Homo sapiens: one gene and its partners. The protein of the gene in region 1 interacts with the protein of each later gene in a biochemical or structural test. Each region holds a gene or a part of one and is shown in the gene's direction. Other genes may lie near its edges.

Region 1 (6,821 bases):
CTCCCAGCTTGTTTGTGTCTGCAGCTCCACTTTACAGGCTACTCTGTTAGAAGATGATTTGGGGCTGCTTTTCATTAAAAAGAAAAGCCTTACCGAGGACTCCCATGCCCTTACTATCTGCCTACGCGATTTCTTCTTAACTCCTGTATCACTTTTGCTTTGCAATAAACTTCTTTGCCTGCTCTTTGGAGTACTTTGGACTCACTCTCAAATTCTTTTACGTGGCTAAGTCAAGAACCTGAACGGGCCAACTGCCAACACTTGGACATACCTTCTAGTGCACGTGCATGTAATTTGCTTTAGGACTATCTGCGTCTGAGAGTGTACTTTTGAAGGAGCTACATTGTCCGGAGTATATACCCTGGGGTTCATCGTCTTGCACGAGGAAAATTTAGAATACGGATACACACGAGGAGTTTAGGAGGAGATGTAATATTTCTATTTTTAGGATAGATCACGAGATGTAGACACTAGACATTTAAAATGTTACCAGATACAGGCCAGGTGCAGTGGTTCATGCCTCTAATCCCAGCACAGTAAGAGGCTGAGGCACGCGGATCACCTGAGATCAGGAGTTCGAGACCAGACTGGCCAACATGGTGAAACCTCGCCTCTACTAAAAATACAAAAAAAAAAAAAAAAAAATTAGCTGGGCATGGTGGTGTGTGCCTGTATTCCCAGCTGCTCTGGAGGCTGAAGCAGGAGAATCTCTGACAATCTCTTCAGCCCGGGAGGCAGAGGTTGCAGTAAGCCGAGATCATACCACGGCACTCCAGCCTGGGCAACAGAACAAGACTCCATCTCAAAACAAACAAACAAACAAAAAAACAAAAAAAACCCCAAAGTTACCAGATACAGTCCAAATTGCCCTCCAAAGTGGCTAGATAAATTTACCTCCCAACAGCAGTGTGCGAGAGTTCTCATTTTCCCATACCCTTGATGGTATGTTCTTGAAAGTCCTAAAGCTGCATTTCTTCACTAAAATTCTGTTAGTCACACTTTTTACTAATTTATACTGCCATCCAATGAGGTTTGATTACTATTATTATTATTTTTGAGACAGGGTCTTGCTCTGTCACCTAGGCTGGAGTGCAGTGGCACAGTCATACCTCACTGCAGCCTCAAACTCCCAGGTTCAAGTGATCCTCCAACTTCAGCCCCTCCCGAATAGCTGGGACTACAGGCATGCATCACCATGCCCAGCTAATTAAAATTTTTTTGCAGAGATGGGGAATCTCACTTTGTTGCCCAGGCAGATCTTGAACTCCTGGGCTCAAGCAATACCCCCACTTTGGCCTCCCAAAGTCCTGGGATTACAGGCATGAGCCACTGTGCGGGTCAATGATTCTTTTAATTAACTCTAGCGAAGTGGGCAGAGCATTCATTTTATTTACAAGTACTATACTCCTTCCCTTTGGCCTTTAAATATAATTTATAGGCAGCATTGATTTGCACTTAGAGACACTGTCTAACACAGGTCTCCGCTGAGAAGAGAAATTCGCCCATTCAAAATCTGTGTGTGGGCTAAAGGCTAAGGGCTTATGCCAGAAAAGATTTTTTGTTTGTGTTTTTGTTTTTGTTTTGAGAAGGAGTTTCACTCTTGTTGCCCAGACTGGAGTGCAATGGCGCAATCTCGGCTCACTGCAACCTTTGCCTCCCGGGTTCAAGCGATTCTCCTGCCTCAGCCTCCCCAGTAGCTGGGATTACAGGCTGGCCTCGAACTCCTCACCTCAGGTGATCCGCCCGCCTCCACCTCCCAAAGTGTTGGGATTACAAGCGTGAGCCACACGCCCAGCCAAAAAGATTTTTACAAGACGGGCAAGTGTTCGCTTTTCTATCAATATGTTAGCAGTCTGTATTTACTTATTTGCTGGTGAGAAACCTTTCTTCCCTGGTTTCTAAAGTTTGAAAGTCTTTGCCCCTGAGCTCATGAGATTTCCAGAGAACTGATTCAAACAACTTCATTAAATAGGTACTTACTTCATGCCTGGGGCTTTACATTTTTATTTAATCTTTACAACTCTCTTTTGCATTCTTATTGTCATCAGAAAAATGCAAATCAAAATCACGATGAAATACCATCTCATGCCAGTTAGAATGGCTTTTGTTAAAAAGAAAAAATAGCAGATGTTGCTGAGGCTGTGGGGAAAAGGGGAACATTTTTACACTGTTGGTGGGAATGTAAATTAGTTCAGCCACTGTGGAGAGCAGTTTGGAGATTTCTCAAAGAACTAAAAATTGAACTACCACTCGACCCAGCAATCTCATTACTGGGTCTATACTCAAAGGAATATATATCGTTCTATCAAAAAGACAGATGCACCCGTATGTTCACTGCAGCACTATTCACAATAGCAAAGACATAGAATCAACCCAGGTACGCATCAACAGTGGATTAGATAAAGAAAATGTGGTATATATACACCATGGAATACTATGCAGCCATAAAAAAGAACAAAATCATGTCCAGGAAGAGGGGAGAACAGCAACATGGATACAGCTGGAAACCATTATCCTAAGTGAACTAAGGCAGAAACAGAAAACCAAATACTGCACGTTCTTATAAGTGGGAGCTAAACATTGGATACACATGGACACAAAGATGGGAACAATAGACTCTGGGGAATACAAGAGTCGGGAGGCAGTTGGGGGAAAGGGTTGAAAAACTACCTATTGTGTATTGTGTACTTTGCTCACTACCTGGGTGACAGATTCATTTGTACTCCAAACCTCAGCCTCACGCAATATAGATGGGGTTTCACCATCTTGGCCAGCTGGCCAGGCTGGTCTCGAACTCCTGACCTCAGGCGATCCCCTGGCCTCGGCTTCCCAAAGTGTTGGGATTACAGGCGTGGGCCACTGCACCTGGCCTCAGTTTTTGTTTTTGTTTTTTTGTTTGTTTGTTTTTTGAGATGGAGTCTCGCTCTGTCCCCCAGGCTGGAGTGCAGTGGTGCAATCTCGGCTCACTGCAAGCTCCGCTTCCCGGGTTCATGCCATTCTCCTGCCTCAGCCTCCCGAGTAGCTGGGACTACAGGCGCCCGCCACCACGCCCGGCTAATTTTTGTATTTTTAGTAGAGACGGGGTTTCACAGTGTTAGCCAGGATGGTCTCCATCTCCTGACTTTGTGGTCAGCCCGCCTCGGCCTCCCAAAGTGCTGGGATTACAGGTGTGAGCCATCACGCCCAGCCTGGTCTGTCTCAGTTTTAAAACGGAAAGTCCTGCATCCCAAGAAAACCTCTAGTCCAGGCAAACCTAGGTGGGTCGCTCTAGGATGGAATTAGGATTTCCAGTGGTCTTGGACAGAAGGGCGACCTCTCCCTTGAGTTACGAAGGAAGGCGGAGAGATGAAGGGCAGGATTAAATAAACAAGTATGCGGGCTTTGGAGCCAGGGCAAAGCTCTGCCTTTTAGCTGTGTGATCTTGAAATTATTTAACCACTCAGATTCAGTTTCCTGTAATTTGGGGATAATTAAACAAGAATGAGCCGTGTGAAAGTGCCTATCCAACTGTAGTAGGCTCGCAGCAAGAGTTTAAATCGTTTTTATTCATCTCCGGTCCTAACTTTTGCCGCTGCTCTGTGTTCCACTCTTCTATCATCTTTAATTTCTCTGCTTGACTTGTTCCTGCTTTGTTCTCTCTGGTCCCTCTCCGGTCGCTCCTGCCACTCACGTTGAGTACCATCCACCACTAGAGGGCGGAATAGAACAAACCAAGATGGGTGCCCCTCCAGCTCTCTATGGCGTCTGCTCGCCGAGCCCCGCAAAAGAGGCGGGGATTCCATCATGTGACCGGGGTGCTGGGCGCCGGCGCAGGCGCGGTTGCTGCGTAGTCGTCGCCGGGCTCCGTTGCCCGCGCTGTTTTACCTTCCCAACGCTTGAGGCGGACGCTGGGGGGTCCTGCGCCTTTCCCTCCTGCCGCTGGGGACTGCAGGCTAAGGCCATGTCCCGAAAGCAGGCGGCGAAGAGCCGGCCGGGCAGCGGCAGCCGGAAAGCCGAGGCCGAGCGCAAGCGGGACGAGCGGGCGGCGCGCCGGGCCCTGGCCAAGGAGCGGCGGAATCGGCCGGAGTCTGGCGGCGGCGGCGGCTGCGAGGAGGAGTTCGTCAGCTTCGCCAACCAGCTGCAGGCCCTGGGGCTGAAGCTGCGGGAGGTGCCGGGGGACGGGTGAGGCGGGCCGGGAGCGAGGGAGGCGGCGCCGGGGGACGCGCCGGGCTCGGCCTGGCGACCGTTGCCCGCTCGCGTCCATCCATCCATTCATTCGGGCGGCCCGGGCGCCTCCCGCGAGCCAGCCACGCTCCGAGTGCAGGGCGTCCAGCTGCGAGTGAGGCGGACAAGCCCCTCGCCCCGAGACGCTCGCGGGGATCCCAAAGGGTCCTAATCATGGCAGACGCCGCGAGCGAAATAGAAAGTGGGTGCTGAGACCGTATATGGGAGCAGGGCCACTGGATTGTGGCCAGGAAGGGCTCTCTCAAAGGTGACATTTAAGCTGAGTTCTGAAGGAATGAGATGGAGCCAGGCATTGGAAAAACAGTTATCATGACGATAAGACCAGTTGAAGGAGTTTGAGTAAGCCCCACTTGGTAGAACGCTTTGCCTCCTTTGAGTCCTTGGTTTTTGGGTGGTGCCCCCATTTACATTTGTGAAATTAGGTCGCCTGTTTACTGAGCTGAAGGCAGCTTCTCTAATTCTTCCTTCCATGGGCCTCAGTTTCTCTGTAAGCAAAGGTGCTTCCCCAAGCTTTCTTGGGACTTAGACTGGATCCAGGTCCAGCTTTCTTTAGGGAACGCGGAGGGGGAGAGTGGGGAGGAGGAAGAAAATTAGCTTCAAGAAAGGGGATATGGCTCCAGGAACATGGATGGAAGAAGGAAAAGGGTCAGGAAGAGGGGAGAACAGTTAGGATCCCCATTGCAGGGGCAGGTAAAAAGGGGTCTGGTTGTCAGCTGTGTCACTTTGGAAGAGAGAGTGTTAATAACAGCCTGGCTTTTGTTTTTTTCCTCCCCGTATTTGAGTGCTCAGATCCTGCAGAGGGAAGACTAAAATGAAATTAAAGACCATAAGGAATTGCCTTAGTTCATTATTATTGTTATTTTGTAGAGACGGTGATTTTGCTGTGTTGCCCAGGCTGGTCTCGAACTCCTGGCTTCAAGCGATCCTCCTGCCTCGGCCTCCCAAAGTGCCTAGATTACAGGCATGAGCTACCACCCCCGGCCAGGAATTGCCTTAGATATTAACTGCAGAATAAGGTGTTTTAAAAATTTTCACATTACATTGCAGCTTATTGATTAAGACTGTGAACTGGTCCTAATTTCCCTTTCCCACCGTTCCTGTTTATGCTCATTGCTTCAGGCAGATTGGATTTCTTTTTGCTCACAAAGAGTTCACCACACTTTGCTGCGTTGCTGTTTTTGCTTAAGATGCAGTTGGAACTTGATTACATTTATTCACCATCATCTGGCAAAGTGCTTGGTACATGGAAGGCAGTCAGTACGTTTTTGCTGAATGAAATATAAAAATAATAGAGGGAGGTCAGCTAGCCTAAGCATAAGCCCAAGACACCCTTATAGAAACAGAAATACCAATTGAATACAGTGGAATTGGCGTGGGACATTGGGGCTTTTCCTTGCAAATGATTGGATTGCTTGTGTCTGCTATACTGGGTATGGTATTCTCAATGTCAGGGTGCCCAGGAAACTGAAGTACTCAATAGAAGGTTACTTATGAGGAGGAATTAGCACAGGGAGTTGTAAACTCTTGAGGGGGCTTTCATAAGGTTATGGGAAACTTTGGGGGTACTACTTCTGCTCCCTATCCCCACACCCCCATACACACACAGCATACTTTTCAAGTTAATTCAGCACACCTTAAGTAGGGTGCTGGGAATATGTTGATGACTAAGATACTTAAGGACTTCATAGCCTAAGGTAGAAACACGTAACAGTGGGTCTCAGCTTTTTTGGTCTTAAGATCTCTTGGCATTCTTAAAAATTACTGAGAAACCGAAAGAACTTTATATGGGTTATAGCTATGAGTATTTACTGTATTAGAAAGTAAAACAAAGTTAAAACACAAGAATACACACACATTCCATTAGCTATCAGAGTGATGACTTCATGCATCAGGTAGCCTCTGGAAAACTCCACTGCACTTGTGAGAGAATGAGAATGAAAAAGGTACATTACATCTTAGTTTTGAACTCACGGATACCCTGAAAGCATATCAGAGACCTTCCCACATCTCCGGTCCCTTGAGTCACACTTTGAGAACAGATGATACAAATAATTAAAATATAGTTTGATATATTTTTAGTAACAGTGACTGATTATAATGGTACTATTGAGAAGGAAAAGGCTACTACTCTATGAATTGGCCAGGAAGTCCTTCTCGTTCATTCGGTAAATACTCATTGGATACACTGCTAGATGCCTCTCAGAGGGTGTCATGCTCTGATTGGGTCATGAAGGACCAATAGGAGTACACCAAGAGAACGGTCCCATCTGAGAAGGAGTATATATAGAGGCACAAGGACACGATGTTTTTGGGAGATCTACAGGTTGTTTAGGGTGACGGGTAGTGTAGGGCACAAGGGTAGAAGTAACGGGCAGTGAAGCTAGGCTCCAGAAACCAGCTTGACTGGAGTGCTCATGTCTCTCTTCCAAGGTTCCTGTTATTCGGACAGTGTTAGATAAAATGATCGTATTTCCTCTTGTGTGGGCTTCATGGAGCTAACCACCTTCTGTTCACAAGTTCTTCACATGAGTTCCATTAGCTGGACTGTGGTTCAGCCCTCGTCAGTATCCTAGTCCTTTCGAATGTGGTGATGACAG
Region 2 (7,034 bases), on another chromosome or scaffold:
TCACCGTGTTAGCCAGGCTGGTCTCTATCTCCTGACCTCATGATCTTCCCGCCTTGGCCTCCCAAAGTGCTGGGATTACAGGTGGGAGCCACCATGCCCAGCCCAGAACCACTTTGTTTTTAAAAATTATGCCAATGAAAAGAAATCCAGTGAAATTTGTTTTATCTAAAACTTTTTCTTTTTTTCTTTTTCTTTTTTCTTTTTTTTTGGGGATGGAGTCTTGCTCTGTCACCCAGGGTGGAGTGCAGTGATGTGATCTTGGCTCACTGTAACCTCCGCCTCCCGGGTTCAAGTGAGTCTCCTGCCTCAGCCTCCAGAGTAACTGGGATTACAGGCGGGCGTCACCTCACCTGGCTAATTTTGTATTTTTAGTAGAGATAAGGTTTCAGCATGTTGGCCAGGCTGGTCTCGAACTCCTGACCTCAAGTGATCCACCTGCATCAGCCTTTCAAAGTGCTGGGATTACAGGCGTGAGCCACTACACCCAGCCTAAAACTTTTTCTATTACTGATTATGAGATATATGTGGGCCAGGTACAGTGGACTCATGCCTGTGATCCTAGCACCATGGGAGGCTGAGGCGGGAGTTTGAGTCCAGCCTGGACAACATAGTGAGACCCCAGCTCTACCAAAAATAAGTTAAAAATTAACTGGATGTGGTGGCACACACAGGTAGTCCCAGCTACCTGGGACTACAAATTCTAGGTAAAAAAAAATCTCGAAAATACATGGGAAGTTTCTTGTAGAAATTCCCTGTAGAATTGTCAGTCCATATGTTCTTTTCATTCTAAGTGTTAATGTACTTTACTATTTATATAGTTTGGACTCAGTGAAAAGGTTACATAGAAATCAATTAATTGTAGTTTTTTTTGTTTGTTTGTTTTTTGTTTTGTTTTGTTTTGAGACAGAGTTTCACTCTTGTTGCCTGGGCTGGAGTACAATGGCGTGGGTGGCCTCAGCTCACTGCAACCTCTGCCTCCCAGGTTCAAGCGATTCTCCTGCCTCAGCCTCCCGAGTAGCTGGGATTACAGGAATGCACCACCATGCCTGGCTAATTTTTTGTGTTTTTAGTAGAGATGGGGTTTCTCCATGTTGGTAAGGCTGGTCTCAAACTCCTGACCTCAGGTGATCCACCCGTCTCAGCCTCCCAAAGTACTGGGATTACAGGCGTGAGCCACTGTGCCCGGCCAGTGGTTTTAAGTAATGGTATATTAACTGGTAAAGAAAAGGAACAAACTACAGCAACATGAACAGTGAAAATGAATTACATAAATAATGTTGAACAACAACAAAAAGAACGTAAAGGAATACATACAGCTGATGCAGCAAGACAAGGAAAATAAAGGCATAAGATGGGAAAAAGAGTGATGAAATCGTTATGTGTAGATGACTTGATTGGCTTCACATATAAACTGTTGGAAATAATTAGTAAATTAGCAAAATTGCTGGTTGCAAAGTCAATAAACAAAAATAAAAATATTTCAATATACTAACAAGATTAAAAACAAAATGAAAATACCATTTAGAATATCATCAAAAATATCAAACCTAGGTCCATTGGTGCATTCTGATAGTCCCAGCTATTTGGGAGGCCGAGGTGGGAGAATCACATCAAGTCAGGAGTTTGAGGCTGCAGTACACTATGATCTATCTGTGAGTAGCCACTGTACTCCAGCCTAGAGACCCCATCTCTAAAAAATAAAAATTGAAAACTTTGGCCAGGCATGGTGGCTCACGCCTATAATCCCAGCACTTTGGGAGTAGAGGCAGGCAGATCACTTGAGGTCAGGAGTTTGAGACCAGCCTGGTCAACATGGCAAAACCCTGTCTCTACTAAAACTACAAAAATTAGCTGGGCGTGTTGGTGCGCGCCTGTATTCCCAGCTACTTGGGAGGCTGAGGCAGGAGAATTGCTTGAGCCCAGGAAGCTGAGGTTGCAGTGAGCCAAGCTTGCTCCATTGCACTCCAGCCTCAGTGACAAGCGTGAAACTCTGTCTCAAAAAAAAACAAAAAACTGAAAACTTGAAAAACAATTTAAAAATCAAATATTTAGGAATAAATATCACTAAAGATATTCAAAACTTAAAAACATAACTGGGTAAATTTGAAGAGGAAGTAATTGACAACTATATCGTGTTCATTTTTCCTCAAATTGTTCTAGATTTAATGCAATCAGTTGAAATATGATCAGTTTTTTAAATTAAATTGACAAACTGATTAAAATATGTATTCATTTATTTTTTGAGACGGAGTCTCGCACTGTCGCCCAGGCTGGAGTGCAGTGGTACCATCTCGGCTCACTGCAACCTCCGCCTCCCGGGTTCAAGCAAGTCTCCTGCCTCAGCCTCCTGAGTAGCTGGAACTACAGGTGCATGCCACCACACCTAGCTAATTTTCATATTTTTAATAGAGACGAAGTTCCACCATGTTGGCCAGGATGGCCTTGATCTCTTGACCTTGTGATTCGCCTGCCTCGTCCTCCCAAAGTACTGGGATTACAAGCGTGAGCCACCGCGCCTGGCTGAAAGGACGATTTTTTTTTTTTTTTTTTTTTTTTTTTTTTTGAGACGGAGTCTCGCTCTGTCGCCCCGGCGGGACTGCGGACTGCAGTGGCGCAATCTCGGCTCACTGCAAGCTCCGCTTCCCGGGTTCACGCCATTCTCCTGCCTCAGCCTCCCGAGTAGCTGGGACTACAGGCGCCCGCCACCGCGCCCGGCTAATTTTTTTTTGTATTTTTAGTAGAGACGGGGTTTCACCTTGTTAGCCAGGATGGTCTCGATCTCCTGACCTCATGATCCACCCGCCTCGGCCTCCCAAAGTGCTGGGATTACAGGCGTGAGCCACCGCGCCCGGCCCGATTTTTTTTTTTCAATAAATAATGCTGGGTCAATTGGATATCTATGTAGGAAAAACATGAACCTTGATTCCCTACCACATATCATACACAAATTTTTTTTTTTTTTTTTTTTGAGATGGAGTCTTGCTCTGTTGCCCAGGCTGGAGTACAGTGACACTATTTTGGCTCACTGCAACATCTGCCTTCTAGGTTCAAGCAATTCTCCTGCTTCAGCCTCCTGAGTAGCTGGGATTACAGGCGCATGCCACTATGCCCGGCTAATTTTTGTATTTTTAGTAGAGACGGGGTTTCACCATGTTGGACCAGGCTGGTCTCGAACACCTGACCTCAGGTGAATCGCCCGCCTTGGCCTCCCAAAGTGCTGGGATTACAGGCATGAGCCACTGCACCTGGCCCCACAAAATTTAATTATAGGTGTGAGCCACTGCACTTGGCCTAAAATCATTTTTAGTTATAAAAATAATACTAGGTCATGGTAAAAAAAATTAATTGAGTGTAGAACCTACAAAATGAAACTGGTAATACTCTTCCACCTCCTGCCAGCTCCACTAGTCCCACTCCCAGAGGGTATATATAGACATTATGAATCTTGCTTTTTAAAGTAAAGTTTTAAGTGGAAATTTTTTAAAAAGTTCCAGTCACTTGGAAAATATTCATAAGCAAATATTTCAGTACTATTTTTACTGTTTCTTAGATTTCTGCACCTAATGAATTTGATGTCATGTTTAAACTGGAAGTCCCCAGAATTCAACTAGAAGAATATTCCAACACTCGTGCATATTACTTTGTGAAATTTAAAAGAAATCCGAAAGAAAATCCTCTGAGTCAGTTTTTAGAAGGTGAAATATTATCAGCTTCTAAGATGCTGTCAAAGTTTAGGAAAATCATTAAGGAAGAAATTAACGACATTAAAGGTAAGACTTTTGCCTTTTGATTCTTAAAGGTTTAATTATACCTAGTAATTGCCAATGTACACTCCCATTCTCATGTTTCTTGACCTCTCTGCAGTAAGAAAAAGTGCAGTAGAGAGGTCAAGAAACATCAGTAGAGGAGTGTACATTGGCAATTACTTATAATATGATTACAAGATTATAAAGTACAGAAGGGTAGAGGTCTTTATCTATTTGTTCTCTAATGAATCCTAAATAACTAGAACACCTACACATTAGATAATCAATGAATATTGATTAAATTAAATGATTAAATTATATGAAATAATCAATGAATATTTATTAAATTGATGGATAAATGAATCTACACTCTCTGCCTAGGTATTTCATCCATTCCCAATGCCACCTATATGATGATGACTCCCAAATGTTTACTTGCAGCCCAAATATATCCTTTGCACTCCAAACCTATATCCAGCTACGTCCTTAACATATCCACTTTGATGTTGATGTACCACAGGAATCTATAACCAAACATATCCAAAGCGAATAAACATAACTTAATTCATATACCAAACTATGTTTTGCCTCAGTCCTTCCCATCTCAGAAAATGGCACAATCAATCCACCCAGACGCACCATCCAGAAACCTGGGAACCATCTTAATTTAATCCTCTCTGTTACCCCCTACGCTTAATCCAGATGCAAGTGCTGCTACAGCTTGGACCTGTCTGCTGCTTCAATCCCAGCACCCTACTCCCACCCCACCTAAGCTGCCACCATCTTTTACCTGAACTATTACATCATTTTCCTTTCTAATCTCCCTATTTGCCTTCTTATAATATCTGTCCTTAGAAGCCAGAGTAAATGTTTTAAAATACAAAGCCAGTCATTACTCTCTGATGAAAACCTGGCTTCTCAATGATCAGATAATAAAATCTGGTGCCAGGCGCAGTGGCTCACACCTGTAATCCCAGCACTTTGGGAGGCTGAGGTGCGTGGATCACCTGAGCTCAGGAGTTTGAGACCAGCCTGGCCAACATGGAGAAACCCCATCTCTACTAAAAATACAAAAATTAGCCGGGTGTGGTGGCACATGTCTGTAATCCCAGCTACTTGGGAGGCTGAGGCAGGAGAATTGCTTCAACCTGGGAGGCAGAGGTTGCAGTAAGCCGAGATCGGGGCATTGCACTCCAGCCTGAGTGACAAGAGCGAAACTCCATCTCAAAATAAAATAAAATTAAATTAAATTAAATTAAAATCTGGCCAGGCGCAGTGGCTCACACCTGTAATCCCAGCACTTTGGGAAGCTGAGGTAGGTATATCACGAGGTCAGGAGTTCAAGACCAGCCTGGCTAAGATGGTGAAACCCCATCTATACTAAAAATACAAAAATTAGCCAGGCGTGGTGGTGGATGCCTGTAATCCCAGCTACTCGGGAGGCTGAGGCAGGAGAATCGCTTGAACCCGAGAGGTGGAGGTTGCAGTGAGCCGAGATCGTGCCACTGCACTCCAGCCTGGGCGACAGAGCAAGACTCCGTCTCAAAAATAAAATGAAATCTAAAGTCCTTTTCAGGGTCTACAAGTCAGTACAGAATCTGGTCCCTGGCTGCCTCTTCAGCTTCATTTCATATAACTTCATCTTTTCCGAAAGAGTCTCTTTTTGTTCCTAGATCTTTCCAAGCTCTTTTTTTCTGCCTCAGGGCTTGGCTCCACCACCCCATTCCACCCTAATTGCTATCACTTTTCCCAGTTTATTCCCTTCAGAGCACTCACTGCAATTTGTGTTGTATGTTATTACGCTATTAGATTAAGAGCTTTATCTTGCAAGCACAGACGTACAATTAATAACAAATGGAAAAAATGATTATCTTGTATACTGGAAAGTAGTAAGTGCTGTTGTGAAGAAGTATAGCAAAGTGAGAGGGATCAGGAATGTGGGAGATGGAGGTGGGGGGGAAGTTGCAATGTTAAGTAGAGTGGTAAGAAGAGAATTCCATTAGAGTTTGGGAAGAGCCAGGCGCCGTGGCTCACGCCTGTAATCCCAACACTTTGGGAGGCCGAGGCGGGTGGATCACGAGGTCAGGAGTTCAAGACCAGCCTGGCCAAGATGGTGAAACCCCGTCTTGACTAAAAATACAAAAAACTAGCCGGGCGTGGTGGCGGGTGCCTGTAATCCCAGCTACTTGGGAGGCTGAGGCAGAGAATTTCTTGAACCCAGAAGGCGGAGGTTGCAGTGAGCTGAGACCGCGCCACTGAACTCCAGCCTGGGCGACAGAGTGAGACCCTGTCTCAGAAAAAAAAAAAAAAAAAAAAGAGTTTGGGAAGAAGAGAATGAACAAAAGGAGACTATGAGTGTTTTGTAGAAGGAGCGGTCAGTGTTTGGAATGCTACTGACATCCAGAAATCCAATGGATTTGTTCTTTGGTCTTGTGGGGTTGACAAGAGAAATGTCAGTGGGGTGATGGACACAGAGTGAAAAGGCAGGGTTGCAGTGGAGATAACATGTGTAGGCCACTCTAGAAAGTTCTGTCTGGGCTAACTGTGGTGTCTCAGCACTTTGGGAGGCCAAGGCAGAAGGATTGCTTGAGCCCAGGAGTTCAAGACCAGCCTGGGCAACAAAGTGAGAGTCCATCTCTACAAAAAAAAATTTTAGGCCAGGTATGGTGGCTCATGCCTGTAATCCCAGCACTTTGGGAGGCCAAGGTGGGCGGATCACAAGGTCAGGAGTTCAAGACCAGCCTGGCCAAGATGATGAAACCCCGTCTGTACTAAAAATACAAAAATTAGCCAGGCGTGGTGGCAGACACCTATAATCATAGCTACTCAGGAAGTTGAGGCAAAAGAATTGCTTGAGCCTGGGAGACAGAGGTTGCAGTGAGCTGAGATTGCGCCACTGCACTCCAGCCTGAGCGACAGAGCAAGACTGTCTCAGAAAAAAAAAAAAAAAAAAAGAAAGAAAAAAGAAAAAAACATTTTTTTAATTAGCCAGGAGTGGTGGCATGTGCCTGTGGTCCCAGCTACATACGATGCTGAGGCAAGAGGATTGCTTGAACCTAGGAGGTTGAGGCTGCAGTGAGCCATGTTCACGCTACTGCACTCCAGCCTGGGTGACAGAACGGGACCCTGTCTCAAAAAAAAAAAAAAGTTTGGGCTGGAAGGAAGCAGAAAGATGGGTGAGTATGGAGAGGAGGAAGATGTGGGGTGAAAGGAGAGGTATACCCTATAACCCTTTGTATGAATTTCAGAATAATCTAGCAGGGAGGGAGAGATGGCTGATGTAGGAGA
Region 3 (7,034 bases), on another chromosome or scaffold:
CAGGGCCTCCAGGCAACCGGGGGCCTTTGGGTCCCCAGTTACACACTGTGGTCACATCAGCCAGGCTGACCTGAGGGTCACTGCAGGACCAGCCTCTGCTGAGGGCTGGCTCACCTGCATGGAGGGGGTTGCTCCCACCCCAAGCATGAGTCTGACCCACGCACCAGCTCACTCTCCCCTCAGGACCACCGACTTGCCCAGTCACTGAATGGAGACCACCTGCTGTGGTCACCTTGCCAGGCCCTTCTCTGTAGACACAGGAGACCGATCTTGAGGAGCCAGAGGCAGAGCCCAGCTGGGAGCCGGGGTTTCACTGGTCAGTCGGTCAGTCTCTGCAGCTGCAGCCTGAGATCAGCCAAGCCCCTCCTGAGGCTCCTACCTGGCTCACTTTGCCCTTTCTCCACAGGGGTCTGATCTCTCTGCTCTGCTTTTCCAAACTATTTCTCTTTCTCTCTCTCGCTCTCTGGTTCTCTCTCTCTCTCTCTCTCTCTCTCTCTCTCTCTCTCTCATCAGATGGCTGACTGGAGGCAGGGTCCCAGCCCAAGGATGGGGTTGGGGTGGAGGTGGCGAACCTGGGTTGGTCCCCACTGGATGCTGGTCCTCACTCTCATGGCAGACGGCTTTCTTTGAGGCCAGGACTGGGTGATGGTGTCGCTACCCCCGCCGCAGTCTGACGTCACGCTGCCGGGCCCCACCAGACTGGAGGGCGAGCGCCAAGGGGACCTCATGCAGGCACCGGGCCTCCCAGGCTCCCCTGCCCCACAGAGTGTAAGTACCCGGCATCTGGGCCTGGGTTTAGGCCAAGGCCTGCGGCTGCCCAGGCAACAAGAAGACCAGTCACCTTACCGCCCCCAGGGACCTCCCAGGGCCTGTCTTGTCCCCTCCACCAGCAAACAAGTCCTCAGGGACCCCGAGATCCAGAGGGGTCACTCCTCATCCCTTCAGTCTGAGCCTGTCCCAGGGCTGTGAGCCCCATCAGATTTGGGGTACCCCAGGTTTCATGGCAGGGTGCCCTCATGAAATCGGGGCCAAGGGTAGGCTATTTCTTCTCCACCATTTAGGGTCTTCCCAGAGCTCAGCCATAGACCCCCTTTACCCCAGAACAGAGTAGGGTCCCAGCCAGTCCCCAGGCCTGGTTCAGCCTCCACTCACAGGCTCGCTACTCTCTGTCTACCCAGAAGCATGCCGGCTTCAGCTGCTCGTCATTTGTGTCCGACGGCCCTCCAGAGAGGACACCCTCACTGCCCCCACACAGCCCCCGCATTGCGTCACCAGGGCCCGAGCAAGTCCAGGGCCACTGCCCAGCCGGCCCCGGCCCTGGGCCCTTCAGGCTCTCACCCTCAGACAAGTATCCTGGCTTTGGCTTTGAGGAGGCCGCAGCAAGCAGCCCTGGGCGATTCCTCAAGGGCAGCCACGCGCCCTTCCACCCGTACAAGCGGCCTTTCCATGAGGACGTCTTCCCAGAGGCCGAGACCACCCTGGCCCTCAAAGGACACTCCTTTAAGACCCCAGGGCCGCTGGAGGCCTTCGAGGAGATCCCAGTGGACGTGGCGGAGGCCGAGGCCTTCCTGCCTGGCTTCTCAGCAGAGGCCTGGTGTAACGGGCTCCCCTACCCCAGCCAGGAGCATGGCCCCCAAGTCCTGGTGAGTACTAGTGGCCAGCGAGTGTCCCATCTTCCCACTGTCCCAGTTCCTAGCAGCCTAGAAAGAGTCAGACCTCTGAGACCAAAGTCCCACCTTCTCTTTGCAGACCTTGCCACTCAAGACCAGAGAGTTGGGGCCTCCTGGTCAGCTGGGGAGGGGTGTTGGCCTGGCCAGCATGGAGGGGGGCAAGTGGGGGAGGTAGGCCAGGCTAAAGAAGCTGGCAGCTTCCCAGAGGCTCCTGAGTCAGGATTCCAGTGTGTGACTTCTCACTGTTTGTTTAAATGTCCAGAAACTCCAGCCAGACCTACACACCCATATGCAAATGTGACAAGAAAAACACATTCCAGAGGCCAAGGGAAAGGGTTTGGGGAGGAGCCATAGTACACAGTTTTTCCCTCCCCAGCCTTAGCATACAGAGTTGAGAGAGGACTTTAAGTGTGGAGGGACCCTTCCTGGCCCCATTCTTTGCCCAGAGTGGGGCCTGGGTGTATTCCTGGAAATACCTTGGAAGGTTAACATGTCCTTCCATAGCCTGACCTCCATAAGCGGCGTGACCCTGGACAAGTCTTAACGTCTCTGAGCCTCATCTGAAAAGTAAGGTCAACATTACCTGTCTCATGGGATTGTTGCTTAGGGAAGATAAAAGCTAAAGGGAATTTGCTCCCTGCTCCCCCGCTCTGGTTTGGAGGTCCCTGAGGCAGTGACTGAGTGGGCGTAGCCTCAGCAGTGCCTACTCCACATGCCCACCAGCCCCCCTCACCTCTTGCTTTCAAACAGGCCCCCATTCCAGCCCCAAGCCACCCCAACAAAGGCTTAGAAGGAAGATGGAGAAGGCGGTTGGGTCCTACCAGGTGTGGCCAAAACAGGACTTTATTCTGGCCCTTTGACCACTTCTTCTCAGGCCCCTTAAACATGACCACAGCCTACAGATAGGGCACCATCATCTCAGCTACTGCCCCCAAACCTCCACTCAATAACAGCTGCCAATCATTCTGCCAGGTGCTTTCTTTCAAGTGCCCCCATTTAATCCCCTCAACAACACTCTAGAGAGTTCCCACCATACCCGTGTTGCAGATGAGGAAACTGAGGCTCATAGAGGCCAAGTGACTTGCCCAGGGTGTCTCCTAACCTGCAAATGGTGAGGCTGAGATTGAGTTCACACCCTTGCCCTCCCACACATGGAGAAGAGCTCCAGAGACACACAGGTATCTGGTCGACTTGCTGGGTGACCTTGGGCATATTGCTTCCCCTCTTTGGGCTCAGCCCCATCATCTGTCAAATGAAGGGGTTGGACACAAGTGCTCTTGGCCCTTCTAGGCCCGAGATTCTATGATTATGGCAATCTCTGCATCAACAACCCCAGGGCACACCCAGAGAGAGGTCACAGCTGATTTGCCCCTCTGGGCCCAGATGCTGGTTTCCCAAGGCCCCTGGTAACCCCAGGAAGTGCAATCCGCCTCCTCCAGGGCTTGTCCACCTTCCGGGGCCTAGCTGCACACCCTCCTGTCCGTACTCACCGGAGAGCTCTGCACTAGGCCCTGGGACTCTGTGCCGGCCTCTCACACATGGGAAGGCGGAGTCTGGCCATCATGGCTAGCAGCAGCTGCAGGCTCCCCATGCCCAGTGTGAGAGCATCCACAGGACTCACGCAGGCCAGCAACTGTGCAGACTCCCTGGAGCAGGGAGCAAAAGCTCTGCATCAGGGATGGCCAGGAGTCAGAGCGGAGAGGAGTTACTAGCCCCATTCAGAGATCCTGCTGGAGCTTCCTGGGGCTGTACAGAGGAGGAAACAGAAGGGACCCAGGCCCACAGCTGGACCAGCCTGTCTGGCCACTACCCATGCTCCCCTCACCATGGATCCTCAGGGAGAGTTCTGGAGCTGTGACCTTTTCCTGGTGTCCTTTGCACACCTACTCAGAGGGTCTGAGACCTCTGAGTCAGGCGTGTCGAGTGAGGTCAGCACCGTGCCTTTGTGCTATTCCAGAAGATCCCTGTCCCTACCCCAGCACAAGTCTCCCTGACTTCTCAGGACAGCCCAGCCTCAGCCTCTCCCCTGCCGTGAGGGGAGGCGTAGGGACTGCTGTCAGTTCCAGCCCCGGCTCTACCACTAAATTGCTGAGTTCCCTTGGGAAAATCTCTGCCCTTCTCTGTTCTCTGTTGTTCTCCAGGAATAAGCTTTGGGGGAAGCAGAATAGGGGTTGCTTTTATGTAAGGTTCAAGACACAGGAAAGAGGAAGGGAGAAAATAAGGCCTAATCTAGTCATCTGCTTTCTCTTCCAGCAGGGTTCAGAGGTCAAAGTCAAGCCCCCAGTTCTGGAGAGTGGTGCTGGGATGTTCTGCTACCAGCCTCCCTTGCAGCATATGTACTGCTCCTCCCAGCCCCCCTTCCACCAGGTGGGTCTGGGGCAAGTGGGCCTGCTTCCCCCAGGTCTGAGGATATCGTGTGTGTGTATGTGGTGTGTGGGTGTCTATGTGATGGCATGTGTTCACCAGGATAGGCAGATAAGGACAGCAGGGCCCTGAACCTTAGGCTTGGCCACAGCAGGTGGCGGGAATAGTTAATGGGAAGAGAAGCAATTGCCCTCCTCCAGGGGTGGGCTTGTCTGAGTCCCTGGCAAGGCCTGAGAGGCCTCAGATAAGAGTGTGGGGCTGAGATGGAGGCAGGGCTGTGATGTGAGCCAGAAATGGGGGAAGGAGGAGAGCTGCCCCAGACAGAGAGAGGGGCAAAGAGGAGTGTGGTGTGAAACACAGGCCGAGCAGGTCGAGGAACAAGGGCTTCTGTATAGTCAGCCACCATCTTGCTATGTGACCTTGGCCTCCAACTTCTATTAGCCTAGAAAGGGTGGGCACCCAGTGTGGGCTTAGGGGACCTTCCCACCCAGAGGACTCCAAGTCCCCATCATCTTCAGCCCTTTCCTCCTTTCCCAGCTTCAGCTCCTCCCAAGTGTATAGGATGCCAAGTAATTGCCCCACACTGGCATGGGATGGAGGAGTTTTAAAGGAGAAAGAAAAGAGCCCCAGAGCAGCCAGGCAGCTCCCAGGAGTCACCAGGCAAGACAGAGCAAGTGGCTGCCCAGCGCCCAGCTCCATCCACCTGCAGCCTGGCACTGAGACAGGCCCTGCCTGTGGAGCAGGTTCTGCACCCGGCTCTCTGGCACTGGCCCTGATCTCAGCCAAGCCAGGGAGGAAGGCAAGGGAGAGGGGCTGGGTCAGACTGCTGGCTTTGCAGGGAAAAGAAAGAGATAGAGGGAAGCAAAGAGAAGGCATGAGAGGACATCCTCTCTGCCATGAGGGGCCTGGGTGGAATGACCGAAGCTATCCTGAGGCTCATGGTCTGACCCAGGGTAGAGGATGTCCCTGAGGCAGGGACAGAGATTGAGCCACAGAAGGACTAAGGGGCCACCAGACCTTAAATGACCTCACCATGCCTGGCCCTGCTTTGATGGCCTCTGCAGTCTGCACCCCCTCTCAAGATGGCCACACCCAGGGCTTTATGGAGCCTGGACCGAGGTGACTCAGGCACTAAATGTCTCTTGGGTAACCTGGAAAGAGCTCTTCAGCCTGGAGCAGCTGGGGGAGTCAGAGTCTCCTACCCCCATCCCCCATAAAACACCATCCGTGGCACCGCAGCCACTCCCTTTGCCGTAAAACCACCTCCTACCCCGACCTGTCCACCACCATGACTGGCCCTTTCAAAGAGCCACTGAAACTCATAAAAGGTGGCAGTGCCCAGCAAACGCCCAGGCTGGACATCCTGCTTCCGGCCCAGCTGCTCTGGGAGATGCACAGGCACTGGGAGCACCTTCCTGGAAGGGTGCAGGGGCCGAGGGCTTCACTTCATACTCTCCCTGCAGGGTCCCGTCACCATAGCAACCAGAGCATCAAAAGGGCTGAGAGGAAGGAGCTGGAGGAAGAGGGTTTTAAGGCCTCTGAGATCCTGAATTACAGGGTGTGGATCTCCTCACAGCCCCTCAGACAGCTCTGCTTTGGGGGTGATGGGGCCCATGACCCAGGAGGGAAGAATCTGGCCTGAGCCCCTTCTCTGGATGTATATAAATGGGGAGGAGGGCCCTCCTGGGAAAGGCTGGGTACCATGCAATCACTCTGCCCCTTTTGACCTCCTCAGTACTCGCCAGGTGGTGGCAGCTACCCCATACCCTACCTGGGCTCCTCACACTATCAGTACCAGCGAATGGCACCCCAGGCCAGCACCGATGGGCACCAGCCTCTCTTCCCAAAACCCATCTATTCCTACAGGTACATTTCCCACTCTCCAGGGATGGGAGGAGGAGGGGAGTGAGAGGGCCCCTGGGAACACTGAGGCATGGAATCCTCTGGGTCTACCAGTAATGGCAGCAGGTGGAAATCATACCAGTGGGCTTCCAGAAGATGCTGGAGAGAGGGTTCCTGCATGAAGGCAGGGGCATAGACTGGATCAGCTCTGACCCTTTGTCTAAGCCTGGGGAGTCATGTCTGTGACTTGACTCAGCAGATGCTGGTGCCATGTGATGAGCCTGCCAAGGTCTCACCTCCTAGGGCCCAGGGCCTGGATCTGAGAATTTAAGGGGGATGCTTGCTGCCTTCCCTGTGCCTCCCCGGAAACAGACGGAAGCCCCCCTCAAAGCTCTACTGGAAGGAAATGGGGGATGAGGCCTGCAGATGTGACTCGGCTATCCACCATCTGCCAGATCTGGTGGGACTTCTCTGGGGCTGGGTTCTTAAGTGTCAGCAGACCCAGCCTGTCTGGGAGACCCTTCCATCTGTCCTTTCATTCATCCAACCAACAGTGACACTTGGCCAAATATGTGTCAGGCCCTACATGGGATCGGGTCATCAGCTAGTGTGAGCTGAGGGGAAGGGAGAGGAACTTAAGCATCAGCCAGGAGTGCAGAGAAGGGCTTTGTGAAAGGCAGGATCATTCACTGAAAGACATACACGCAGCTCTTGGAGTCCAGCAGAAATGAGTTCAAGACCAGCTGTGGAACTGACCAGCATGAAACCTCAGGGAAGTTACTTAATCTCTCTGAGCCTCTATTTATTCCTCTTTAAAAAAAAAAAAAAATGTCAGGGGTTGGGGGCAAGGGGAGGGACAACGTTAGGAGAAATATCTAATGTAGATGACGGGTTGACGGGTGTAGCAAACCACCATAGCACGGGTATACCTATGTAACAAACCTGCACGTACTGTACATGTATCCCAGAACTTAAAGTATAATAAAAAAAATAAAAATATAAGACTTTTAAGATTCAAAAGAAAAAAATGTCAGGGTTTGGGGTAGCAGTTCAGGCTGTTGGAAGGATTAAGTAAGAGAATGTAGGTACTGTGCTTGGTACATTGCATAGGCTCAAGAAACCTTAGTTCCCTCCCTACTCTCCAACATTCATGCAATT
Region 4 (7,034 bases), on another chromosome or scaffold:
AGTAACTGGAACTACAGGCACAGGCCACCACACCTGGCTAATTTTTTGTATTTTTAGTAGAGACGGGGTTTCACTATGTTGGCCAGGCTGCTCTCAAATTCCTGACCTCGTGATCTGCCCGCCTCTGCCTCCCAAAGTGCTGGAATTACAGGTGTGAGCCACTGGACCCGGCCTAGTGACTCTTTCAATATCCAATTCAGTGCTTGGTCTACATGCAGTCAAAGGAGGCTGGGAGAAGAAAATGTCTCAGGATTACTACCATCTCTCAAGCACATCCTACCTCTTGGGCCTGGGCTCCGGATCCCTGTTTCCCATTCTCCTGCTGATACACAGACTCCCTGCTCACCTATTTCCCAGGAAAAAAGCAAATAGTTCAGGGCCTGTCAAAGCACCCATACCCTTTGGGCTTAGCCAAATGCCTGGGCTATATTAGATGTTCAGTAAATAACAAAGAATGAATGAACGAACGAACGAATGAATGCAGAACCCGTGTTTTTTGATGCCTCCATTTTCCAAGCAGCACCCCAGATGCTTTTCTAGCTTACATTTCCTGGAGAACCCTCTTACCCATTCTGCAAGGTCGTTATTTTTATACCTGATTTACAAAGCAGAAAACTGAGGTTCAAAGATGGGTATGGATCTGGTCAAGTTCAAACAGATCATAAATTCCAGAGCTGGACTTCCAGACTGGCTTTCTCACTCCAAACTCATTAAACAACGTTCATCTTCCAATATCCACTTTTAAGCACCCATAATAACAACCCAAGGTTATGCAGGTATAAGGCTAAAGCCAGGATTTGTACTTGTATCTGTCTGATCCCAGTACTTCCTGTTGTCAAGGCAGACATGCCCCAAGGGCCTTGGGGATTACAGGTCAGGAACCCCAGGCTGGGACTTCTCGCGCCAAGAATCCTTCTGCATCTACTGCCATCTGTCCCTTCCAGAGCACATACGTCTCCCTCCTTCTCAACTCTTGGGTGCTGGCAAGTTATCTCTGAGTGGGTTTGTGCCTGAGTTCAACAATGCCCCGCTAGTCTGGAAACAAGACCACAGCAACCACTGACCTCAGTTAGAACAAGTGCAGGCAGGTTGTGAGCCAACTCCTGTTTCCACAGTGTTCTCTCCCCGCTGCTTGACTTCCTAGTTTATGGGAAGGTGAAGAGAGGGCCCCCAGAGCAGTAACTAGTCAGGGCACTGACAAGGGGGCAGGTGGGTGGCCTCATCATCTATCCCCTTCGGCTATTCCTCTCCCAGCTTCTTCACTGGGTGAGGAAGCAGAGTGTTCTGATGGTTGGGAGCATCGACCTGGGAGTTAGGCAGATCTGGGCTCAACATTCTACCACTTTCTACCTGTGTGACCTCAGAGAAATGTCTTAGCCTCTTTGAGCCTCTGTTTGCTCACCTGTAAAATGAAGATAATGATACCTCTTTCATGGGATCACTGAAAGGACTAACTGCACGAAGACCTGTAAAATACTTCACTCAGCGCATGTCCCAAAGGAAACACCCAGCCCATGGAAGCTGGGTCACTCTTGGCTTCCCCTGCTAGCACCCCTGAGCGGCTCTGAGTTTGGGAAAAGGGTCTTACGTGGCAAAGGGCATTTATTTCCCCGTGTTGAGGGGGTTGAAAGAAGTGCTCTTACATAGGGGTGAAGAGCACAAGCCTTGCTGTTGTGAGACCCCGGCCAACTTACTTATCACCTCTCCAGGCCACACTTCCCTCATCTGTAAAACCGGAATTATAATCATGACTTTTAATTAATGGAGCCACAATGAATCTCACATAAGTTCATGGTCATAGAAGTGACTTATCTGTCCTCACTGTCTCCACTTCCTCACCCTCAATTCTCTCTTGAGATCACTGCAGACTGGCCTTTATCCTCACGCCTCACTGTGTCCAGCTCACGATCCCCTCCATGCTGCTGAAACCAATGGTTACTTTTCAACCTCTGTCTCTGACACAGCTGATCTCTCCCTCCTTTTTTCCATGGGAGTTTGGGATACTACCATTCCTGGTTCTTCTACGGCACTGGCCACTTCTCATCTCCTCAGCTGGCAACTCATCTTCCCAATATTTATGTGTTGGAGGGCCCCGGGCCTCATTCTTTGGCCTCTTCTCATCTGTGCTCACTCCTGGGTGATCTCCTCCAGTCCCATGGCTTTAGGTCAAGTGTACACGCCGATGGTTCCTGTAATTCTGTGTACAGTCCGGTCTTCCCTACTGAGTGCTCACTCACAGATCCAGTGCTGCTTCGGCAGGGACAGACGCATGTCTAAAATATCTAATAAGCCTCTTGAATTCAACGTGCCTAAAATAGGAACTCTTCATTTTGCCCTATTTCATCCTATCAAAATTGCTTCCCCCATGGGCTTCTCCATTTCCAAAACTGGTACCAGTTGTTCAAGTGAGAGAGCTGAGAGTATCCCTGATTCTTCTCTCCACATCACATCAGTCTCTCAATAAGTTCTACTAGGGGACCCTCAGAATACATCCTAAATCTGACCTCTTCTCACACTCCCATCAGGACTGCCCTAGTCCCAGCCCAGGCCCCCTTGTCTCTCCCTGATCTCCTTAGGTGGCCCTTGCCTGTCTCCCACTTCCACCCTTGCCCCACTGGGGGCTGTTCGCCAGAGTGATCTCTTACAAAGAGACATCAAGCATGTCAATCCCCTGTCAAAACTCTCCAATAGCTTTCCATCACAACCAAACTAAAACAGAGACATACAGGACCCTATGTGATTATGCCCCTGCCAGTGTCGCCGTTCTCACCTCCTTCCTCCCTCCATCACCCGCTCAGCTTTAGCTGTGCCAGGGCTGAAGAGATCCCACTCCAGGACTCCTGCATTTGTGGTGTCTGCCTGGAGCTCTTTTTTTCTGTGCATTTTTACATGCTTGCCCCTTCACTTCATTCAGCTCAAATGTTACCATTTCAAAGAGGCCTCGCCTGATTCCCATATCTAAGTTAATCTCTTTTTCCTCAAGCTGCCCTAACCTCTATGCTTATTTTTCTATGGAGTGCTCATCTCCACCTAAAGTTGTAGTGTGTGTGTGTGTGTGTGTGTGTGTGTGTGTGTGTGCACGCATTTGTTTACTTGTTTATTATTCAAAGCCTTCACTAGGAGGTAAAGCCTGTGAAGAAGTGGGCAGGGTGTTGTTTACAGCTGCATCTCCAGTGTCTAAAAAAGTGCCAAGTACACAGTAGGCACTCAAACGTGTTAAATGAATTCACGATAATCACCTACTTCAAAGGGTCGACGTAAGAACTCGAGGCAGTGATGCTTGTGAAGCCCTTGGTATGGTGCCTGGCACACAGTAGGATGTCGATAAATGTTAGCTCTTACCATTATGTAACAAATCCTCTTAGAATAAGGATGTCCTTCACATTTGCCACAGCTACCACACCTTTCAGACGGAGGGCCCCGCGGTCTCTCAGAGATCTTCTGGGCCAGGCCCCCGTGGGGCTGCGTGTGCTGGGCCTCCAGTTCTAAGGGACCACAGTGCACCCCTTATCAGATGTTTGTGTTTAGACTCTGAAGGAGGCAAATAACTCTAGTTCTTTTGACAACATTTTGGGCTCTGCCACCATTTTATTATGTGAGCAAACATTTGATAGCTGGGAAGCCCATCCCTAATGACAGGCCATAGAATCTCACTGGCGTCTCCTTATCTGCCCTTCTTGTTTGCTCTTCTTTTGAAACCTGCAAGGTCACAAGCCGTTTTCTCTCTCCTCCACCTGAAATCTGAAAATTGGAAAAAGGCTGATAGTGGGAAGTAAAGAGACTTGAGAGTGGGGGTGGGCCAGGGGAGGAAGAGGAGGCAAAGGGTATCAGAGGACCCTGACCAACGTCTCAAGAATGTGGAAGGGTCAGAAGCCTGTCTCCTCACATGCACGCACTGCTCAGCCCCCCTCTTTTTTTTTTTTTTTTTTTTTTTTGTGAGACCAAGTCTTGCTCTGTCGCCCAGGCTGGAGTGCAGTAGCATAATATCGGCTCACCACAACCTCCGCCTCCTGGGTTCAAACGATTCTCTTGCCTCAGCCTCTCAAGTAGCTGGGACTACAGGTGTGCACCACCATGCCCAGCTAATTTTTGTATTTTTAGTAGGGATGTGGTTTCACTATGTTGGCCAGGCTGATCTCGATCTCCTGACCTTGTGATCCACCTGCCTTGGCCTCTCAAAGTGCTGGGATTACAGGCGTGAGGCACTGCGCCAGGCCTTCAGCCCCACTCTTAAGAGTACTGAGGAGCAGCAGGGGCTTGGGCCGAAGAACCCCATGTTAATAATAACAATTGTGCCAAGGACCATGCTCAGGACTCCACAGGTGTTGACTCATCTAATCACACAACAACTCCCATATTATAGGGGAAGAAACTGAGGCACAGAGAGAGTAACTTGTCCAAGAGCACAAAGCTTAGTAGAAGGCTCCTCACCTCCAAGCATGATTGAAAGAGCACATGCTGAGTGGCCACCTAGACAGCTAGTTTGAAGCTGTGGCTCCACACTCTCCTAGTTCTTAAACCATGGACAATTCACTGACTCTCTTTTAGCCTTGTTTTCCTAATTTGTCAAATAGACATAATGGTATCCTCATATAGGGTTATGGTTGGAGCACTGATCAATGCGATAACAGTGGCCTTTAGTGGTATTGGTAGGTGTAAGTGTGTGTGTGTGTGTGTGTGTGTGTGTGTGTGTGTGTGTGTTTGGGGGGATCTTGAGAGAATAAGCCACTAAGTCAAAGGCAGAACCTTAGATGCCGGCAAAAGCAAAAGGGAAGGAGGAGACACAGGGAGACAAAAAGAGACTCCCCAGAAGTGAAAAGGAAAGCAGTGACACTCCATGACAGTTCAAATGAATAAGGCCCAGGCACTGGAGGGCAAGGCTGCCCTGAGTTGGGTGAGGTGGCTTCTCTCGAGGGCTTCTCCAGCCATTCTGGGGTCTCCTGCCCTGGCCCACCCACAAGGATGGCATCAGAGGCCTTCAGCCTTTGGATCCTTTCCCTGGTCCTCTGAGTTTCTTATGCTAAAGTAAGAAACCCGTAGAAAGCACTTTGCAATTTGCAAAGCTCCTTCCTGATGAGTAGTTTGAGTGGTCATTTTCTCGTGTGCTTTCTGGCCTTGCTGCCCTAGGTGAGCAGCACTGGCACACCCTGGGAACTTGTTAGAAATGCAGACTCTTAGGTGCACCCCAGGCCTACAAGTCAGAATTAAACCAGAATCCACATTTTCACAGGCTCTCTGGTACTTGTGGGTCCGTTAAAGTTCGAGAAGCATTAGTATAGGAGGCCTCTGCTCTTAGCGGTCTTAGGAAGAGACCCTTGCTTCCACGAGAGGCAAGAGCTCACCATCCAGCTGCCTTTTCAAGTACACTAAGCACTCTATAAATGCCACTGTCACAGAAAGAGGAGCCCAGCTTCAGGATTCAGGTCAGCAAGTTAAGACTACTTCAAGGTCCCCAGCAATTCACTTCTTTCTTCTGAAGTGGCCAGGAAAGCCGGCTCCCGGGTTTTCCTGCAGGAAGTGTGCCTCAGCATGAAAACTGCAGAACTGAGCAGACACGAGGCCCCCAGCCCTCCACCTGCTGCTCTTTGCTGGTTGAGTTGGGCATCATCTCCCTTAGAGAAGCCAAACTAATGGCCCATGACCCTGCCAAATGACACAGCTGAGCACCCTCTCTCCTCTCTCTCTGCAGTGTCCTCTACAAGCCTGGTGATGCCCACACACCACTTACTTCGTGCGCAACAACAAGGACCCTGTTTTCCACACCATCACCCTCTGGGCAGCTGTCATGGAAAAGCCCAGTGACCTGACCAGCACCTGCGAGAGGTCCCTGCTTACCTGACGGACGTCCTGCTGGCACCTCAGACAATCCACTCTCAGGAGGCGCAGCCCGAAGCCCAGTTTCCCTTCTATGCAGTATTGCCACAATGCCTCTCCCACGATGTCAAGGACTCCTGTCTGTCCTGGAGGTGGGAGACAAGGAACCTCCGAAGAGGAAGCAAGAAAGCCGTACTGTCTATGTTGTGATCCTTCATCGAACAAACTGATGCGAAAACTTGAATCTGTTACTGAAATGAGGAGAGAAGGACATGTGCTATTGAACTGAGCCAAACACACTGTAAATATCCACAGACTCCCTCCCCTGCCCCCATCCCAAATGATCTTGAGATTTCTTTTAAAGAAGTAAATTTGTCCAATGGCTGTAAACTATAAACTACTGTAATTAAGTGCAATTTCCCCTCTGTGTCCTCTCCCCTCTGCCCTGTATATAATACTAAAGTGTCTATTAGTTTTCTTTGTAAAGGTCAGAGTCAAAATTTCAAAAGTGATCTGTCCCCTCTCCCCTCATGGAGAAACATCCTAAGTGGGAAGTGAAGCCCCTTGTCCTCTCCCGCGGGCCTGGACACTTATGGGGACAGCATACCTTGGACTGACTACCAGCTAACTCCAGTCTCCTGACATTAAGACACACCTCTGGATCCCTGGAGGGGCTGAATGTAGTGTGTCAGAGTAACATGCCAGCTTCCTGTGGGCCAGGAGCTCAGCCGTGCACTCCCTAAGAAACCCCAGGGCAGGGAAACTGGCTGTTTGATAGCAGAAGAAAAAGTTGCAGTCTCAGAAAGCCTTCCATTAAAACAATTTATTTTATCACTACCCAGAGTCTCATATTTCTGTCTCTGATACTTTCCCTGCCATGGTTCCACCGAGAACCCCTGGCCCCTGGTCTCCTTGGAATTTTCTGTATACTCCACTGGGATCCTGTAGTGTGTCATCTAGGGGTGTAGAGAGGTGGGTGGCCTTCTCTTGCCGTCATGCTCCCAGTGTCTGTGTAGGCTTTACTGCTGATTGAGGTGAAGAAGAGTTGAATCCCCCAGTAAGACTCCACAAGTCGCTCAGAGGGAATCTGGCCAGAGCAGGAGCTAGCACCCTTTTCTTCCCTGCAACTCACAGGGGTAAAGTCATAGAGTCAATTCTTGGTGGGTGACATGTGATAGAAACAGACAAAAAGTAGGATGAATGAAAACTCTGCGGGTAAA

The links.
Region 2: the proteins of OTUD3 (region 1) and CGAS form a complex in vitro, tested with the Homo sapiens proteins (one study listed by BioGRID).
Region 3: of the proteins of OTUD3 (region 1) and FOXN1, one has a biochemical effect on the other in vitro, tested with the Homo sapiens proteins (one study listed by BioGRID).
Region 4: of the proteins of OTUD3 (region 1) and HNF1B, one has a biochemical effect on the other in vitro, tested with the Homo sapiens proteins (one study listed by BioGRID).

Annotation. Positions count from the first base shown.
Region 1 is NC_000001.11:19,878,574-19,885,394, forward strand, and holds the start of OTUD3 (OTU domain-containing protein 3), read left to right. Parts: upstream 1-3,821; 5' UTR 3,822-3,940; coding exon 3,941-4,161; intron 4,162-4,579; exon of another isoform or gene 4,580-6,821.
Region 2 is NC_000006.12:73,442,264-73,449,297, reverse strand, and holds part of CGAS (cyclic GMP-AMP synthase), read left to right. Parts: intron 1-3,550; coding exon 3,551-3,770; intron 3,771-7,034. UniProt on the Homo sapiens protein: Nucleotidyltransferase that catalyzes the formation of cyclic GMP-AMP (2',3'-cGAMP) from ATP and GTP and plays a key role in innate immunity.
Region 3 is NC_000017.11:28,523,325-28,530,358, forward strand, and holds part of FOXN1 (forkhead box protein N1), read left to right. Parts: intron 1-616; exon of another isoform or gene 617-631; 5' UTR 632-645; coding exon 646-768; intron 769-1,178; coding exon 1,179-1,643; intron 1,644-1,857; exon of another isoform or gene 1,858-2,237; intron 2,238-2,248; exon of another isoform or gene 2,249-2,821; coding exon of another isoform or gene 2,822-2,848; intron 2,849-3,923; coding exon of another isoform or gene 3,924-3,926; coding exon 3,927-4,037; intron 4,038-5,769; coding exon 5,770-5,900; intron 5,901-7,034. UniProt on the Homo sapiens protein: Transcriptional regulator which regulates the development, differentiation, and function of thymic epithelial cells (TECs) both in the prenatal and postnatal thymus.
Region 4 is NC_000017.11:37,686,048-37,693,081, reverse strand, and holds the end of HNF1B (hepatocyte nuclear factor 1-beta), read left to right. Parts: intron 1-5,689; coding exon 5,690-5,710; coding exon of another isoform or gene 5,711-5,802; 3' UTR 5,803-6,651; downstream 6,652-7,034. UniProt on the Homo sapiens protein: Transcription factor that binds to the inverted palindrome 5'-GTTAATNATTAAC-3'. Binds to the FPC element in the cAMP regulatory unit of the PLAU gene. Transcriptional activity is increased by coactivator PCBD1.